4 linked regions of the Homo sapiens genome follow. The protein of the gene in region 1 interacts with the protein of each later gene in a pairwise test. Each region holds a gene or a part of one and is shown on either strand. Other genes may lie near its edges. The genes, in order: PAK5, FAM124B, AP1M1 and PECAM1.

What was found.
Region 2: the proteins of PAK5 (region 1) and FAM124B interact in a two-hybrid assay, tested with the Homo sapiens proteins (one large-scale study listed by IntAct).
Region 3: the proteins of PAK5 (region 1) and AP1M1 interact in a two-hybrid assay, tested with the Homo sapiens proteins (one large-scale study listed by IntAct).
Region 4: the proteins of PAK5 (region 1) and PECAM1 interact in binary tests that used the Homo sapiens proteins (3 or more experiments, as listed by UniProt).

The regions. Positions count from the first base shown.
Region 1 is NC_000020.11:9,579,834-9,584,639, reverse strand, and holds part of PAK5 (serine/threonine-protein kinase PAK 5), read left to right. Parts: intron 1-3,709; coding exon 3,710-4,495; intron 4,496-4,806.
Region 2 is NC_000002.12:224,394,979-224,399,784, forward strand, and holds part of FAM124B (protein FAM124B), read right to left. Parts: intron 1-4,806.
Region 3 is NC_000019.10:16,224,515-16,229,320, reverse strand, and holds part of AP1M1 (AP-1 complex subunit mu-1), read right to left. Parts: intron 2,901-4,806; coding exon 2,774-2,900; intron 1,774-2,773; coding exon 1,631-1,773; intron 1,185-1,630; coding exon 1,113-1,184; intron 552-1,112; coding exon 393-551; intron 1-392. UniProt on the Homo sapiens protein: Subunit of clathrin-associated adaptor protein complex 1 that plays a role in protein sorting in the trans-Golgi network (TGN) and endosomes.
Region 4 is NC_000017.11:64,373,341-64,378,146, forward strand, and holds part of PECAM1 (platelet endothelial cell adhesion molecule precursor), read right to left. Parts: intron 4,778-4,806; coding exon 4,484-4,777; intron 2,017-4,483; coding exon 1,711-2,016; intron 1-1,710. UniProt on the Homo sapiens protein: Cell adhesion molecule which is required for leukocyte transendothelial migration (TEM) under most inflammatory conditions.

The sequences.
Region 1 (4,806 bases):
CCCTGAGGAAATAGAGAAGTGGTAAACAAGGCCAGGCGCTGTGGCTCACGCCTGTAATCCCAGCACTTTGGGAGGCCAAGGCGGGTGGATCACGAGGTCAGGAGTTTGAGACCAGCCTGACCAACATGGTGAAACCCTGTCTCTACTAAAAATACAAAAACTAGCCAGGCGTGGTGGTGAGTGCCTGTAATCCCAGCTACTGGGGAGGCTGAGGCAGGAGAATTACTTGAACCCGGGAGGCGGAGGTTGTAGTGAGCCAAGATCATGCCACTACACTCCAGCTTGGGTGACAGAGCAAGACTCTTTCTCAAAAAATAAAATAAAATAAAATAAAATAAGTGGTAAACAGGGAAGATACAACTGAAATGAAATAGGAAGCTGCTGAAAGAGACTTGATATTTTTAAGGCTGAGTTATAGCTGTTTCATCTTTCCTCTGCCAAGGCTGCTCATCTTTTACTCTTCACAGTTATTGTTTCTCCCAAGTTAATCTGTGGGGTGAGGATGGATGTTGTTCCTCTGAGGAAAGGTCCCAGGTTATATACATGATTCTTTCTTTCTCTAAGGGAGGCTCCAACAGAGCATCCCCTACTTTGGCAATCAATCCATCAATTTATGCACCACCCTCAACAATGACTACATTCCATATAATGAATTCCACACTATGGAATAAAAAAGGAATAGGCAAAAAAAAGACTAGGATATTAGTTTATGAACACTGACTATATTATGCTCAGTGAAAGAAGTCAAGCTGAAAGGCTCCAGACTGTATGATTCCATCCATATGATATTCTGGAATAGACAAAACAATAAGGACAGAAAACAGATCAGTGATATCAAGGGTTTGGGGAGAGGGTAATGTTTGACTAGAGGAAACTCAGGAGATATTTTTGCAGCTGGTGGCACTAATTTGTATGGCACTCTAACAGTGAATACATGATGCTTTGCACTTGTCAATACCCATAGAGCTTTGCAGCACAAAGAGTTAATTAATGTACGTAGTTTCAAAAAACAACAAAAAATAAACCAGAAGATCAGAGGATCCTGGGATAGAATGCAGAATGTGACCAAAGAATCCAACAGCTATACATTTATAACATAACCTCATTGAAGGGGGTGCAGGAAAAAAGACACTAACTTAAGGAACTTTGGAAACAGTGCTTTGAATGCAAACTATAAGTGTAAAGGAATTTTAAAGAACTGGACTTAAACATGGTACTTGAGTTGACAAAGTTGTTTCTCATGGTAGAGTGAGTTAATCTGAAACTGCTGAACAGTTATACTAGCACTGAATAGGCAAATGACTGGCAGATGGTGGGGCCCATGTTTTTTACTGTTGCAGAGGAAGTTACAGGTAAGGAAATGGCAAGAATGAATTATGTGGTACTTGATTAGATTCAGAGACATTAATGTGGATTTATGTTTAGGTTAATATAGATACAGATGGATGGATATAATTATAGGTGTGTGAGTGTGTTCATGAGTTAGTCTACAAACATATTATTTCGGAGCTCTGTTTGCTGAGGCCTGGCAATGACACCCAGTAGCAATGAGTATTCCTGGAACCAAATCTTAATTTCTAATACTATTAGCGTTCCTTGGAGAAATGCCTGATTTGGGGGGAAGGGCAGGGAAAATAAAAGATAAACCTGGAGCTTCTTGTAGGGACAGAAAGTAAGGAAGTGCTCAAAAAATAAAAGGAAGAGGGATCATCAAAGGGACACAGCAGCCAGCCTGAGAGAACTCCCAGTGACAAAAGCTGGAACCATTTGAGCAACAAGGCAAATAACAGAGTGTTGGCTTATAACCCAAAGTATAAAATAAATAACCATAAGTCCATCCATCCTTATATATAAATAAATGATTGAATGAGTAGGTAAATGGGAGCAAATAAGCAAGTCTCCTGTGCAGAAGAATTCCAACTACTTTATATAGATACCCTACCCCCACCACACACACACACCCAAGAAGATAAAGCTTAAATCCCTGACCCTTGAGTAGACGCTACACTTACTGACTTGTTCCCAAAGAATACAATATACAGAAAGCTAGGGAAGGGGAGTGTGACTGTGTGTATAAGAAACCTGGAAAATATGACCTCACCCAGGTAGTCAGGGCTAACATCATCATTCCTAAGTCGTGTCGACGATATGTACCCTAAACATTATGCGATGAAATGTGACTTGACTCTCTGATCTTCCTCCTCAAACCAAATAACCTCTGTTTAAACATGGGAAAAACACCAGAAAACCCCAATGGAGGAACATTCTCCAAAATACCTCACCAGTACTCCTCAAAACTGTCAAGGTCATCAAAAAATAAGGAAAATCTGAGAAACTGTCACAGATCAGAGGAAACTCGGAAGATATAACAAATAAATGTAATGAACTATCCTGGATGGGACTCTAGAACCCTAGGAGAAAATTAATGAAATCTATAGGAACATGGAGTTTCCTTAATAGCAATGCAAGATATTAACTCAAGGGGAAACTGGATGAGAAGTCTATGAGAACTCTGTATTCTCTTTGCAACTTCTCTGTTAATCTAAAACTATTCTAGAATAAAAATTTTATTTGAAAGAAAAGGGTATAGTACAAAACTATTAGTCCAGGACTCTTGGAAAGAAAAAAAATAAACCCTTTGTTTCACCATGGATAGATCTATAAAACATCAGCTCCAGGACAACTTTGACTTCTTCCTCCAGTTTGAAATCTTCTATTGTACCATCCAAGATAGTTTTGAACTCCTTGCTACTTGCTCAAAAGTATTTTTCTCCTAAAATCCTGGAAGTCTGAAGTCACAACACTTTGTTCTTTGTTCTTTTATCCACCCCCATCATATTTGCCTGCAAATCCTGTCATTGTCAAGGCACGGCTGACGGGCTTTGTAAGTGGTTTGCGATGTCTTTCAGTTCCTGGTATTCTTGTGTTATTTAGGTTCATTAAAGGGAACAATTTGTCACTAAGATCCAGGTGCAACCATCATTACTAAGCCATCCAAAATTCAGCGGTGATGTTACACAGAAGTGTGGCCATAACAAACAAGCAGTATAGTATAAGTATATATACTTAATAAGAATATCACATTTGATCATAAATCACACAAATAATCTTCAGTCTGTTTCCTAATTACAGTTTCAGGAAGTGCCTGCCTCATCCATAAAATTTCATAACCTCAGTTATTATGTCTTCCATATAAGGGCAAAAAATGTACACCCATTTCTAGTTATGTTAATAGTTGGGTGATAATGCCTTCTGGTTTTGAAAATCATCTGAATAATGAATGTAAAACAGTAATAAATATTATTTTTTATTACCAAACAGTTATAGAGTGTTAAATTATAATTATCAGCTCATCATTAGGTGGTTAGGGCTTATTATTTAGGTAGAAGAAGTAGGGGGAAGGGATTTGCCTGTAAACTGGTAAATAAAACAGTTATATTCTATGTAGTCTCCTACATGGCTTTTTGATGGTTATTTGATGTCTCTGTTGAGATAGGTAAGAAGAAAAATGCAATTTGAGATTGTTTACTATTTGATTTATTTCACCACTGAAGTCAATCAACACATTTTCTTTATCATTTTGTGTTAAGTGTTCCCGGGGTCTTTTTTCTTCTGTAGTTTAATTTGGATGGAGTGGGGGTGGGATGCCACCATCAATTTAAATCCATGAAATATTTTCTTTAAACAATATTCCCTCTATTATTCCCAGACAATCGTTAGAGGAAACAAACCCTGCAAGGAAACCTCCATCAACGGCCTGCTAGAGGATTTTGACAACATCTCGGTGACTCGCTCCAACTCCCTAAGGAAAGAAAGCCCACCCACCCCAGATCAGGGAGCCTCCAGCCACGGTCCAGGCCACGCGGAAGAAAATGGCTTCATCACCTTCTCCCAGTATTCCAGCGAATCCGATACTACTGCTGACTACACGACCGAAAAGTACAGGGAGAAGAGTCTCTATGGAGATGATCTGGATCCGTATTATAGAGGCAGCCACGCAGCCAAGCAAAATGGGCACGTAATGAAAATGAAGCACGGGGAGGCCTACTATTCTGAGGTGAAGCCTTTGAAATCCGATTTTGCCAGATTTTCTGCCGATTATCACTCACATTTGGACTCACTGAGCAAACCAAGTGAATACAGTGACCTCAAGTGGGAGTATCAGAGAGCCTCGAGTAGCTCCCCTCTGGATTATTCATTCCAATTCACACCTTCTAGAACTGCAGGGACCAGCGGGTGCTCCAAGGAGAGCCTGGCGTACAGTGAAAGTGAATGGGGACCCAGCCTGGATGACTATGACAGGAGGCCAAAGTCTTCGTACCTGAATCAGACAAGCCCTCAGCCCACCATGCGGCAGAGGTCCAGGTCAGGCTCGGGACTCCAGGAACCGATGATGCCATTTGGAGCAAGTGCATTTAAAACCCATCCCCAAGGACACTCCTACAACTCCTACACCTACCCTCGCTTGTCCGAGCCCACAATGTGCATTCCAAAGGTAACGTTTGCTACCTCCTTTCCCTCACGTGTGCAAAAACCTCCACAGGGGTGGTGCTGGCACGACCTTTTTATACGATTGGATTGTAAAGTACTTGTTTGCCTTTTAAGGGAAAATCAATATCAAAACCCACCCTATCTCCACTTGTGAGGCCCCAGGGCAGAGGTTTAGGATAAGGCATATATATTCATTAAAATAAAAATCTATCTTTTGGGCCCTCCTACGTGGTTTCTCATTAAAAGGCGAATAAACTTATTGATTTGAAAGATAGAATTCTGATATATGAGTGATAAATATGATGTGACTGTATT
Region 2 (4,806 bases), on another chromosome or scaffold:
GCTGTCACATCTCCCACAGGGCCATGAAATATAGACCTTGCTGAGCGTTTCAAGTGGCTTTGAGGGAGGTTTATCATTTAATTTATAAAGTTTGCCTACTGTACATCAAACAGAATGAGAAGATCACCAATGCTAACTCAGTGACCTGGAATTTAGAGTCTGCCAGAGCCTGACACCAAAGTCATGGACTCTACCCTTGGATTGCCCCTGCCAGGAGGAGGGCAGGAGATGAATGCATCAGCAGGTGAATCAGGGGAGAAGAGCCATAATGCAAAAAATTGAAAAAAAATCTATAAAAAGTACAAAAAATACAACTTTGGACACGGGTCTCAGCTGTGGAAAGCTGAAAGCCAGCAGTAGTTGACTAGAGATACTGCAGCATGTGGTTGATTTGACAAAATAGCTAATTTGACTGAGGGCACAGTTTAAGTTGCAGGAGGTTTAAAAAAAGAGGCGGACATCATCACCCATGCTACCTTCCCCCAGAACACACTGACACTGTCACTACCACCAGAGGCAAAAGCACAGGGAGAAAAGCAGAGGGACTGTTTGAACGAATAAAGGGAAGGTTGAACCCACTATCATTTTGCACCCACTAAGAATTGAGACAGCAGAATTAAAACTGCCAAAGGAAAAACAATGTCTGGCCCAGAGCAAGAACTCAACAAAGTTCTGAGGAATGAATAAACATGGACTTGCCTTCTCATGTACTCATACATTCATTTACTGAACATCTATTTGATATGCTCATATCGCTGTCATCAAAACCACCCATTCTAGACTCTGAGAGGCATCAGACTGTCTGCAATGGCAAGAGGTCATGTGGAAAACGCATTGCTCACTGGGCGCGCTGGCAGAGACAGCTGACAGCCTCTCACATGCACAGATCACAATTGCACCGCAGTTACATGGTCTCCAGGAGCTTCTACTTTACCAAGCACCACCATGTACATTCTCTCATTTGACCCTCATAACACAAATAATCCATGTCAGTTCCATTCATAGGACTCATCAGTGACTGCTCATTTCACCAAGGATAGAATAGAAGCTACTTAGCCAGGGTTCATTTGTAGAAGGATGTTTTTGCCTACCATGTGCCAGACACTGACCTTAGGTTCTAGGTTCACAGGAGTGAGCCCAAAAAGTCCCCCCGCTCTTGGTACTTACATTCCAGTGGCTGACCACATTCCCACTGATCTAGCCTCAGGCCACCTGCCCATCCTCTTCCCCTGACTCCCCCTCCCTTCACTCCAGCCACATGAAACCTCAGGAAGTTTGCTGAGCATGGCCTGCTAAGCAGCACCACACCAACATCGTCACCCACGGTCACCTGTTTGAGACACCCTTGCTCCCTTCTCCAACTGGCTAATTCCTCCTGGGCCACCCAGCTCACGCAGATCTGGGCATTGCTACTCAGGAAAGCTTTCTCACTGCCCCTCCTCGGCCTAGCTCCCCTCACACTCAGGTCTTCTGCACACACGCCTCCATCCTGGCCATGTGGAGGGATGGTCTGCAGAGAGGTTAGTTTGTGGTTATGGTTCTTCCTTTAATAGGTATAATTTTCTTACTTTTGCTGAACATCAGCCATTTGGGACCACTCTGTATTTGTCTCCTCCGCCCTGATCTTCTCTGGAGACCCACAACCTTCCCTAAAAGTCCCACAGAACACCACACAGCATCTAGGGGTAGAAGCCAGAGCCTTTGCCTCGGGGCTAAACTGATCCATATAATCTCACTTTCCTGCACGTAATAATTGATTTAGAGAAGAGAATCTGATCCTAGTTGGTCTAACTGAAGTCCAGACATTTTGTTGCGCCATGGTGGGGCAAGGCACTTGGAATCCACATGAAGGATGTAACCCTCAGAGCTGCTAGCAGCCAGCTGGCGACCCTGGCGGATGCCTGGCTGAGGATAGGGCCAAGACAGTGATAACAGAGCTGGGATCTGGATCCTGAGCACACTGTGTAAGGCCTGGACTACTCACTTACAGAAGCCAGACTCGCTACCCAGCCCCTCTCCCCAGGACCCAAGGAAGTTTAGGCTGGATTTTCTTTTCTTTTCTTCTCTTCTCTCCTCTTTTCTTCTTTTCGAAACAGAGTGATATGGTTTGGCTGTGTCCTCACCCAAATTTCATATTGAATTATAACTGCCACAATTCCCATGTGTCGTGGGAGGAACCCAGTGGGAGGTGATTGAATTATGGGAGTGGGTCTTTCCTGTGCTGTTCTCGTGATAGAGAATGAGTCTCATGAGATCTGATGGTTTTAAAGATGAGAGTTCTCTGCACAAGCCCTCTCTTTGCCACCTACTGCTATCCATGTAAGATGTGACTTGCTCCTCTTTGCCTTCCGCCATGATTTTGAGGCCTCCCCAGCCACATGGAACTATGAGTTCATTAAACCTCTTCTTTTGTAAATTGCCCAGTCTCGGGTATGTCTTTATCAGCAGCGTGAAAACAAACTAATAGAGTAAATTGGTATCAGTAGAGTGGGGCATTGCTGAACAGATACCTGAAAATGTGGAAGCGACTTTGGAACTGGGTAACAGGCAGAGGTTGGAACAGTCTGGAGGGCTCAGAAGACAGGAAAATGTGGGAAAGTTTGGAACTTCCTAGAGATTTGTTGAATGACTTTGACAAAAATGCTGATAGTGATATGAACAATAAGGTCTAGGCTGAGGTGGTCTTAGATGGAGATGAGGAGCTTATTGGGAACTGGAACAAAGGTGACTCTCATTATGTTTTAGCAAAGAAACTGGCGGCATTTTGCCCCTGCCCTAGAGATTTGTGGAACTTTGAACTTGAGGGAGATGATTTAGGGTATCTGGCAGAAGAAATTTTTAAGCAGCAAAGCATTCAAGAGGTGACTGGGGTGCTATTTAAGGCATGAGTGAACAGTGAATTAATTCACTCATAGTAAATGAGTCTCCCAATATCTGATGGTTTTAAAAACAAGAGTTTTCTGCACAAGCTCTCTTTGTCTGCCGCCATCCATGTAAGATGCGACTGCTCCTCCTTGCCTTCTGCATGATTGTGAGGCTTCCCAAGCCACGTGGAACTGTGAGTCCAATTAAACCTCTTTCTTTTGTAAATTTCCCAGTCTCCAGCCTGTCTTTATCAGCAGTGTGAAACAGACTAATACACAGAGTCTTGCTCTGTCATCTAGGCTGGAGTTCACTGGCACAATCTCGGCTCACTGCATCCTCTGCCTCCCTGGTTCAAGCGATTCTCCTGCTTCAGCCTCCCGAGTAGCTGGGACTACGGGTGCACACCATCATGCCCAGCTAGTTTTTGTATTTTCAGTAGACAGGGGGATTTACCATGTTGGCCAGGCTGGTCTCAAGCTCCTGGCCTCAAGTGATCCACCTGCCTCAGCCTCCCAAAGTGCTAGTATTACAGGCCTGAGCCACCACGCCCAAGAATTTTCTATCCTGAAAAATTCACTCCATTCAAAGAATCAAAAGCTATCTAGGAGCTACAATGTGTTGTCTTTGGATTATGGCTGAGCCTTTACACACTTTCCTCAGGCACTTTTATTATATGACACCAGAAGCAGAATTTTCCAGAAGGCGATCTCTCACTCTGTTTGCAAAAGCTTAGACTCATTGACTTAACAAGAGGAGATCAAAGCGTGTTTTGGAGTGAGGAAGCAGAAGTCTCTGAGGTTTGGAGGTCAGGACAAAGGTGATGTCCAAGGGGGCTATCAAGAGTGAGAGGCAGCTGGGCGTGGTAGCTCATGCCTATAATCCCAGCACTTTGGGAGGCTGAGGCAGGTGGTCACTTGAGGCCAGATGTTTGAGACCAGCCTGGGCAACATAGTGAAACCCCATCTCCACTAAAAATACAAAAATTAGCTGGGCATGTTGGCAGGCACCTGTAGTCTCAGCCACTTGGGAAAGCTGAGGCACAAGAATTGCTTGAACCCGGGAGGCAGAGGTTGCAGTGAGCTGAGATCACACCATTGCACTCCAGCCTGAGCAACAGAGAGAGACTCTGTCTCAAAAACAAAAGAGTGAGGGGCTGATGCCCCATTCACACCTGAGAAGTGGCCAGGCTCCTGGGACAATCCAGAGAGGAAGAGGGCTCTTTTCATACAATTCATGGAGTTTCTCTTTATCCAAAAAACTCTTCTACACTCCCCAAATGTGACTCAACTTTCCAAAGTAACTAAGTTGTTTAAACTGTGGTTCCATAGCAAAAATGTCAGTCAGCCTTAAAGACAGGAATGATTAAAATCATGTCCCTTGCTGCACACACACATTACATTTTTGTTTGACCATGAGGTTGATTTTAAGTACTAGAGAGTCGCTAAAACTGAAAGAAATTTTAGATGCCTTGGAAATTATGGGGTTTTATAATAGGCAACTAACAGAAACAGTGCCTGTCTACCTTATGTGAGCAAGAAGGTGAATAATTTAGAAATCATTTAATATGGAATATGATTCATGTTTTATTAACAAGTCAAAGTGATGACAACAAAATTAACCAAATGGAAAGACATCTCATCTTGTAGTCTCTTATTACTTTATTCAATAGGCCTTAAGGAGCTTCTGACCATTTCTTAAGGACAGAAGCCACAGGATATTTTGCTGTGAACATGACATTCATCCCCCTGCTTGCACATTTACACACATACACTGGACTGCAGCGGCTGACCACATGAACTTTGAGGGTAGATAGATACTTCCTATCTTGGGCAAATAACTGACCCCCTGGAAAGCTCAGTTTTCTTATCTCCAAAATGGGAAAAATAGTAACTTCATAGGTTGTTATAAGTATTAAATAAAATTATCAATTTAAGAGAATCC
Region 3 (4,806 bases), on another chromosome or scaffold:
TTGATGGCAGGCAAGGCTGAGCCTGCACAGAAAGGGCCTTGGACCTGCCAGTGTGGACGGGGCTCCTTCAGGGCCTGCATGGACAGGAGCCCCATCTCACATCAGTACTCAGGGGCATCACAGAGAGGGAGGGAGAGGGCACTGCCCTGAGGTGAAGACAGAGGCTGGTTCACAAACAAGAGGAAGGCAGAAAGGGGCCCAGGGGCCGAGTCAGCCTCTGCTTCCTCCCACTCCAGTCCTCAGCTCTCCGTCCACCCTTTCAGAAGCCCCAGGTGTGGAAGACACAGTGGCCACTGTCACCCCATCTTGAGGTGCAGGGGGTCCTGAGGCACCCAGGCTGCCTTGCAGAGACAGGCGCAGGGGGCACGTGGATGTCTGGACAGAGTGCTCACCGGGAAGGACTTGATGGACCACACGATCTCGCTGTTCTCGGGGACCCACTTAACGCTCCCCACCGTCGTCTTGAACTTGGGTGAGTCGGCATCATTGGGCACGGGAATGTGGATCTCCACGTTGTTGGCTGTTGACCGCCGCTTGAACTGGCTTTTGGCCTGCAGGCCAGGCCAATGCGGCCCGGGGTTATGGAGGCCAAGGTGAGCTGGCCAGCCTCTCCAGGACACATGCCCCTCAGCCTGGCCCGGGGGATCCTCCCTAGCCCCGCCCCTGGCCCCACTTCTCCAGGCACTACCCACCCCTTCTCCTGCCCTCGAGACTCTCCCAAGACCTAATTTCAGGAGTTTCATCTTCATCCTCCTGTCTGCTCAGCTTCCAAGGCTCCTCATCCCTCCCTCTGCCCTGCCCTCCTAGGACAATGTCTATGTCCCAGGGCCAGGCTGCGCTGGACAGGGTCGCTGAGGGGCAGAGGTGCTCCACCTGGGGGCAACACCTCTGGGAGTGTCCTGGATGCCTGGCTACAGGCCCCTCCCCACAAGTGGCACCATCTAGGAGCAGGCCCCAGGCGGTGTCCCCTCAGTGTCAGGTCACTCCTGCATCTGAGGCCACAGTGAGGGTGCACGGATGGCAGCCCTACGGCACCCCCAGCCCTCGGTTAGGCTCCTGGGACGGGCCAGAGACACCAGAAGGCCCTCAGTGGGTGGCCTCGGCCCACGCACCTTGATCATGTACTCGATGCGGCTGTGGGAGTGCTTCTCGATCACCGACTCGATCCATATCAAAGGCTTGACCTGCCAAGGAGGGCAAAGAGGGTGCTCACACCTGGCCTTGTTTGACAAAGGCCCATTTCAGAGGGGAAACCAAGGCCCAGGGCAAGGGACCATCTGCCCAGGTGTGGGCCCAGAGCCCTGCAGGGAGCGTACAGCCAGCGTCAGGGAGGGCCAGGGCAGACAGGCCGAGGTAGCCGGGAGCTACCGGGGAGGCCTTGGGGCAAATGCAGAAAACATGACCAGGGCCTGCTCTGGGGGCTGCCTGGGAAAGGGGTGGTGGTGGCCAAAGGGGTCTGTGCCCCTCAGAAAGCTCGGAGTCCCAAGTCCTCAGACTCCATCTCTGCAGAGCCAGGCAGCTCATGGAGCGTGGGGTGGGGCTGGCCCTGGCGCCTGCCTGGGCTTCACCTCCTGGAGGTGAAGGGGAGGAGGAGTCTGCCGACAGCCCAGCCCCAGGGTGGCGCACTCACGTGGGTGTTGAGACGGTAGGACATGAGCTCGAACTCGCCGTCGGGTGGGATGAAGGAGATGGTGCGGTCATTCTCGAAGCGTGATAGCCGCACACACTGGTGGAACTTCACATCCTCCAGCTCCACGGATTTGCTTTTGCCGCCTGGGGTCAGGGGTGAGGGTAGGACAGATCTGGGCCCTCCGGGTCACTATCTCAGCAGTACTCCTACCACCTGCAACCCACCCCGGCAGAGCAGGGCCCCCAGTCCACGCACTGAGAGCAGCCTGGGCCACAAACACCAAGGGGGCTGGGTCCCAAGACAACTGCCCCATCACTCCTCACACCCCTGGGGTCCCCAGGGGCAGGGCTGGTGGGTCTGGTTCATGCTGAGTCCCCAGCGGCCATCCCAGGGCCCAGCCAGGGGACCTGCTCAGGACACGTTCACTGAATGATTGATCAGTGGACTTGGCTGGGGGATGGCTCGGGGCTCCCCAAGGGCTCAGGCCCTGGCATCCACGGGGTCCTGGGTCCTACCTTGGTTTGCCACCTCACTGAGGGCTATGTGGGTGGGGCCCTGCCCAGCCCCAGGCGGGGAGCTGCCCTGATAGACTGATGCCCGAGAAGCCCTCACCGGGCTAGGAACGGGGGCATGCCCAGCCACTGCACCCTCTTCCAGTGGCCTGTGACAGCTGAGTGGGAGGCACAGTTCACAAAACCAGGCCCTGGGCCCCTCTGCCCCCGCCCTGCTGTGGGAAGTGTTAGAGGCCAGGCGGCGGGAGCGAGAATCACCATGCGTGGCCTTCACACGGCCCACACCTAGGGCCCAAGGTGAGGGGAGAAACCTGGCCTGGGAGGGAGAGAGCAAGGCCTTAGCCTAGGCCCCAGTGCCCCAGGCAGAGCAGGGCAGGGTGCAGGACCTGGCGTGTGAGGCCGGGTGACGGGGGCCTCCCAGCTGGACTGGAGGATCTTCACTCCCCTGCACCTTCTATGTCCAGGGAAGGATGAATACTCTACACAGCTGTCTCAAGCAGTGTGAAGTGCTGCTCAACCAAGTGCTTGAAACCAGCTCGTTCCTCCGCCTGGCCCAACCCTGCCCTAGGCTGTAATGTGTGTGCCTGGTGAGGCCATCCTCATGGGCAGGGCCCTTGGCAAGGGTACTCACGGCCCGTGTTGTCAAAGAGGACCTTGTCGTTGAGGCCCAGGCGCAGCTCGGGCATGCCCGAGAGGAAGACTCGCATCTTGATGGAGCCCACGATCTCGCTGCGCAGGACATTGCCGTTGGCGCTGACCTGGGGGTGGCGGTGTGGGCGTGAGGGGAGGTCCCCAACTCACCAGCCACTGCCTCCTACCACATCATGTGACCCTCTGGCCACCCCACTCTCAACGCCCTTCTCACCTCCAAGCCCATCCCTCTCCTGGGCATCCCCTGAGCTGGGAGAGTCCCAGCTGTGGCTAAGGTCTACCCCTAACCCACACCAACCCACGCCTGGCTGAGGGTCCCCAGGCTCACCCCTCCAGCCTTCATGCCGAGGCCCTGTGGACATGAGGTGGACACTGTGGGTCCTGCCCTCTAGGCCTCAGGCCACACTGGGACCTGATGATGCGTGCCTGGAGCCCCCTCTGAGGGTTCTCTATCAGGTACCAGTCCCTCCCTCCCAGGAGCCCCCTGAATGCTCCGGGCCGGCCCGGCAGCTGGTCCCCACGCTGAGTCAGCTTTGAGAGTCCATGAGCTCGGCTGGACCTGGGCCAGGACCCTGTGGTCCCTGCTCAGCCGATGGGCTGGGCTGGGCTGGGGTCTCTTGAACCAGGCCAGACTTGCTTTTCTTGAAAGCTGTTTCTCCTCTTGGCCTCCCAGGGAGGCCACTGGCCCCTCACCCCCCAGGGCTTATGAGAGATGGTGCTTCCTGAGTCCTGACCCCTTCTTGCTTCTCAGGGCCACCCTGAAGTGTGATAACACTTGATCCAAAATAATCAACTTAAATCCAGTCACAGTGGCTAACACTGACAGCATTTCCACTGCGCCAGGCATTGCTCCACACACGCCTCGACAACCTCTGGGGCAGGGACTGTGGGGAGATGACCTGAGGGGCTGTAACCCACTGCGCATGCCGAGATGCATCTGAAAGTGCAACTGAAAATCCACACCGGGGCGACGGTCCTGCACCCCCTAGCCTGTCCTGCGTGAGCCAAGATGCTGGAGCATCTCTTCTTGCATCCATTTTAGAGGTGAGGAAACAGGCACAGATCAGAGGCCCCGTGCTGAGGGCACAGAGTGACTGGCAGAAGAATCGCTGGGGCTGCAGCCCTGGCCACCACTGCACACTGCTATGCTGCACGAGGCCATGCTCACACCAGCAAGTGGGCCAAAGGCCACCGACTTGGATACCTGGGCCCAGATGCTGGCTCCAGCCAGGCTAACATGTGCAGGGCCTGCATTTCCTGTCTGCAGAGTGGCAGGAGAGTCTGTGCAGTCTTATGCATGATGTCCAAAAAGCACTGGGTAGACAAACAAAAGCCCCTCACCAGCTTGCCGCCTCTGAGGGAATTGGGAAAACTGAGGTGCCAAGCAAATGACAGCCCTGGGAGGGGCAGGGAACCGGACATGGCCCCAAGGGCTCCGGTTCTGTCACCTTCCCCAGCCTCACCTCCTCGTGCTGTCCTGTCCTCATCTCGCAAGCGGCTCCCTGATCCCATGGTGCACAACAGCTTCCCTGCGTCTGCCTGCTTGTCTCTCTCTCTCTCTCCCTGCTGGGGGAAGCCACGTGGGGCTGCGCGCTGCCGTGTCCAGCACCAGAAACAGCGTGTGTGGCAGGAGGTGCTCAGTGGGCAAGCGGAGGCTCAGGAGCTCGGGACCCTCACTGGCCGGGGCTCCAGGAGCCCGAGCATTGGGATTTTGCCTGCCTCTTTCTCGGAGGGCCCTCCACTCCACTGTGACGGCCCCTAATTCCCCTTGGGTGCTGCCTCCCCCTCAGGGAGTTGGGACTGGCCCTGGCAGCCAGCTGTAACTGAACACATGAGGTCGTGAATGCCGCGAGAGCAGGCCCAGGGAGTGGAGCTGAAAAGCTGCCCAGCCCACGAGGCTGATCTCGGCCCTGCGGGCAGCAATCAGAACCTTCTCAGCTGAGGTGTGACCAGCCACGCAGAGCCGGTGCCCTTCCCAGGGCGGGTGCTGAAGGGATGCTTGCTCAGGGCCCG
Region 4 (4,806 bases), on another chromosome or scaffold:
TCAAGCCCAGGAGTTTGAGGGTTGCAGAGATGGCCCATCCCTACAGTCAAGTTCTGAGTTCTAAAATGAGATAGATCTATATTTCTTCATATGGACAAAAGTCCATAAGATTTTGTCTGGTTTTTAAAAAGCTGTAAAATAGTGTGATAGGTCCCCATCTTTTGTAAAAACAAAAGATGTTTTTTCTGTGTGTGTGTGTGTGTGTGTGTGTGTGGCTGGGTGTGTATATGATATATAAATATATGTAGAAAAAGTCTAGAGGATCATGTGTGGTTTTCTCTAAGTAGAGGCATTATAAATGATTGTCACTTTATATACATACTTTATATCCTGCTCTTTTGTCTGAAAATTCTACCCAGAGCACACATGATTTTATAATCAGATAATAGAACATACAGACACACATACACACAATGGGCAGGATAAAGTGGGATGCCAAAAGAAGGGGACCATTTATGACAAAATGTAAGTTTCCTATTTTGGAAATATTTGCAAATATCTACATGGGTGTGCCTTCCCCTGACTTCTCCCGGCTTGGCAAATGAGACCGGGTCCTGGGAGTGGCTGACTACCTGTCCTAGAGCCCTGTATGTCCTGGACACTCCCCAGCTTCCCTCTGCTGTTGCCTCCTTCTCTCCTGGGAGCATTTCCCAGGCCACCTCATTTGTTTGCTGTTTGTCCAACGCAAATCTACGTTGAACAACAGGAGGCCAAGGCTGAGGACCTGGCCCCTCTTTCCTCCCGATCCCCTCCAAACCCAACTTCCTGGTGTCTGACCCTCGATGGCTTAAAGCAGTGGCTTCCAAACTACAGATCACATAATGCATCAGTGTAGTGTGTCATGGCCAGTGTTTAAAGACTGAAATAGGCTGGGCACGGTGGCTCACGCCTGTAATCCTAGCACTTTAGGAGGCCGAGGTGAGTAGATCATCTGAGGTTAGGAGTTTGAGACCAGCCTGGCCAACATGGTAAAACCCTGTCTATACTAAAAATACAAATTTAGCCAGGCATGGTGGCATGCCCCTGTAATCCCAGCTACCCAGGAGGCTGAGGCAGGAGAATCGCTTGAACCTGGGAGGCGGAGGTTGCAGTGAGCTGAAATCATGCCACTGCACTCCAGCTCAGGCAACAGAGCAAGACCCTGTCTCAAAAACACACACAAGGTTGGGGTGGTGGCTCACGCCTGTAATCCCAGCACTATGGGAGGCCAAGGCGGGTGGATCGCCTGACATCAGGAGTTTGAGACCAGCCTGGCCAACATGACGAAACCCCATCTCTACTAAAGATACAAAAATTAGTCAGGTGTGGTGCTGCATGCCTGTAATCCCAGCTACTCCAGAGGCTGAGGCATAAGAATTGCTTGAACCCGGGAGGCAGAGGCTGCACTGAGCCAAGATTGCACCACTGCACTCCAGCTTGGGCGACAGAGCGAGACTCTGTCTCAAAAAAAAAACCCCAAAAACCAAGCCAAACAAACAAAAAGCATCATATATATTAAGAGTAAAGTGTTGTTGGTGAAACTCTTGTCTGAAAAATTGTATGCAATTTAACTGTATAACAGTCAAAAAAGCTTGAAAAATACTGGCTTAAAATGATTAAGAACAGGTCTTAAGTCCTGAGAACAGCAGCCCCTTCCCAGTTCTGGGTTCTTTCTCCCCATACCAAACCAGAAACCACAAAGAACGATGAGGAAGGGAGCAGGATGCTGACCCGTCACGGTGACCAGTTCACTCTTGGTAGATTCTGAGGTCTGCATATGGATCCCAGAAATGATCCTAGCTTGACATCGGAAGGATAAAACGCGGTCCTGTTCCTCAACGGGGAATTCCAGTATCACAAAATTCTGGTCTCGAGAATTCTTCTCTCTTTTCAGCTTGACCATTTTTTCATTTAGTTCAAGTTTTTCAATTGTGAAGTGTATTGGGGCCTTTTCCTCTGGGACAGAACAGTTGACCCTCACGATCCCACCTTGGATGGCCTCTTTCTTGTCCAGTGTCACCCTGGGACTGGGCACTCCTACGGGGAAAGAGAAAGTCTGTCAGTATCAGCCTGATTGAAGAGAAAGTCTGTCAGTATCAGCCTGATTGAGAGACACAAGCCTCCCTCCGCTGAGTGACTGTAGTTGACCCATGAGAGGGCTCTTTTTTGTTCTCTGAACACCCAGTGCGACCTACCAGGTAATAAATGAACAGGTATGTGCCCAGCACAGTACTAGGCACTTTGAAATATATAAAATCTGGAGGCTGAGGTGGGTGGATCTCTTGAGCCCAGGAGTTGGAGACCAGCCTGGGCAACACGGTGAAATGCTATCTCTACAAAAAAAAAAATTAAAAATTAGCCAGGGGTAGTTAGTGGTGTGCACTGGTAGTCCCAGCTACTTGGGAGGCCGAGGTGGGAGAATCACCTGAGCCGAGGAGGTTGAGGCGGCAGTGAGCAGTGATCCCACCACTGCACTCCAGCCTGGGCAACAGAGACCCTGTCTCAAAAAAGAGAAGAAAAGAAAGGAAAAAATATAAAATATGCTCAATGGGAGCTAAGCTATGAGGAAACAAAGGCATAAGAATGATACAGTGGACTTTGGGGACTCAGGGGAAAGAGTGGGAGGGAGCGAGGGATAAAAGACTACACACTGGGTACAGTGTACACTGCTCGGGTGATGGGTCCACCAAAATCACCACTAAGGCCACGCGAGGTGGCTCACATCTGTAATCTCAACACTTTGGGAGGCTGAGGCAGGTGGATCACCTGAGGTCAGGAGTTTGAGACCAGCCTGGCCAACATGGCGAAACCCCATCTCTATTAAAAATACAAAAAATTAGCCGGGCATGGTGGCAGGCACCTGTAATCCCAGCTACTTGGGAGGCTGAGGCAGGAGAATTGCTTGAACCCCGAAGGCAGAGGTTGCAGTGAGCTGAGATCGTGCCACTGCCCTCCAGCCTGGGCAACAGAGTGAGACTCTGTCTAAAAATAAATAAATAAATAAATAAATAAATAAATAAATTTAAAAAATAAAATATGGTCAAGATGTACTTGGTGTTTTCAATGGTTTATAATCCTATTGGGAAGAGGACACAATCAGATTCCCAACAGATGATGCTTAGAGGGGAAAGGTAGCCAGTATTTGTCAGTGTCACTGTGATTGTTGTTACCCTTTATTGAATGCAGCCACAGGCTAGGACTGACTTTAATTTATTCCATGAACATTGACTGAATGCCTACTATGAGCCACATTCATTGTTCAAGATATAAGAATAAACCAAACACCATCTCTGTCTTTACAATTTCACTATCCAGAAGAGCAGACAGATGTGTAAGAATGGATGGCAATACTGAGTGAAATAGAATATTTGTGGACCGGGCATGGTGGCTCACACCTGTAATCCTGACACTCTGGGAGGCCAAGGTGGGTAAATCACTTGAAGTTAGGAGTTCGAGACCAGGCTGGCCAACATGGTAAAACCCCATCCTTACTAAAAATACAAAAAATTAGCCAGGCACAGTGGCGCGTGCCTGTAATCCCAGTTGCTTGGGAGGCTGAGACAGGAGAATCGCTTGAACCCAGGAGACAGAGGTTGCAGTGAGCCAAGGTCGCGCCATTGCTCTTTAGCCTGGGTGACAGAGGAAGACTCTGTCTCAAAATAAATAAATACATTTCTATTTATTAGGAACTCACTAGGTGCTGGAAATTTTGCTAAGCACTCTACCCACATGACACTTTTAACCCTCTCAATAATTGCCTGAAATGGGTATCGTTGTTATCTTCCTTTTACTGGTGAGGATTTTGAAGTTTAGAGCTGTTAAGGGACTTGCCCAGATTGAAACCCAGGCAGAGTGACTGCAGAACGAGGTGTCTTAACACACCGCTGTGGCCTTTATACACACAAATACCATTGAATGTAGAGAGAGCATCAGAGCTGTACTGACTGGCACCCTGGGGTAGACCCATTTTGTTTTGGAAAGAGAAGACATCATTGAGTTGAGTCTTGAAGAAGAAATTTTAATTTATGAGACGAGATGAAGAAGCATTTTGGGAGGCCAAGGCAGGTGGATCACTTGAGGTCAGGAGTTCGAGACCAGCCTGACCAACACAGTGAAACCCCATCTCTACTAAAAATACAAAATTAGCCAGGTGTGGTGGCACACACCTGTAATCCCAATTACTTGGGAGGCTGAGGCAGGAGAATCGCTTGAACCTGGGAGGCAGAGGTTGCAGTGAGCCGAGATCACACCACTGCACTCCAGACTGGGTGACAGAGTGAGACTCCATCAAAGAAAGAAAGGAAGGAAGGAAGGAAGGAAGGGCCTGGCCTATTGGGAATATGTCTAGTGCTTACGTATTCAGGTAAGGAAAATGCCAGGCAGATGAATGAGAGGGTGATGGGTGGAGAGTTAAGTCCAGTGTCACTATTCATTCACAGCTGTTATTCACGCCACTGTGTGCTATGCTCCATCTGCTTGCCTGTGCTCAGTTCCAAGGACTCACCTTCCACCAACACCTGGTACTCTGCAGTGGTTTTCTCTTTGTTGTTCACAATCACAGTACATTTATATGTCCCTGAGTCATAGATCCGGACTTCAGGAATAAAATAACTCTCTGTGCTCTTCATGGAGGAGATGTTGTAAAACAGCACGTCATCCTTATAGAACAGCATCTGGTGCTGAGGCTTGACGTGAGAGGTGGTGCTGACATCCGCGAAGCACTGCAGGGTCAGGTTCTTCCCATTTTGCACCGTCCAGTCCGGCAGGCTCTTCATGTCAACACTGTTGATTGTGAAAGCTAAATGCAAAGGGAAGGAAGGCAGACAT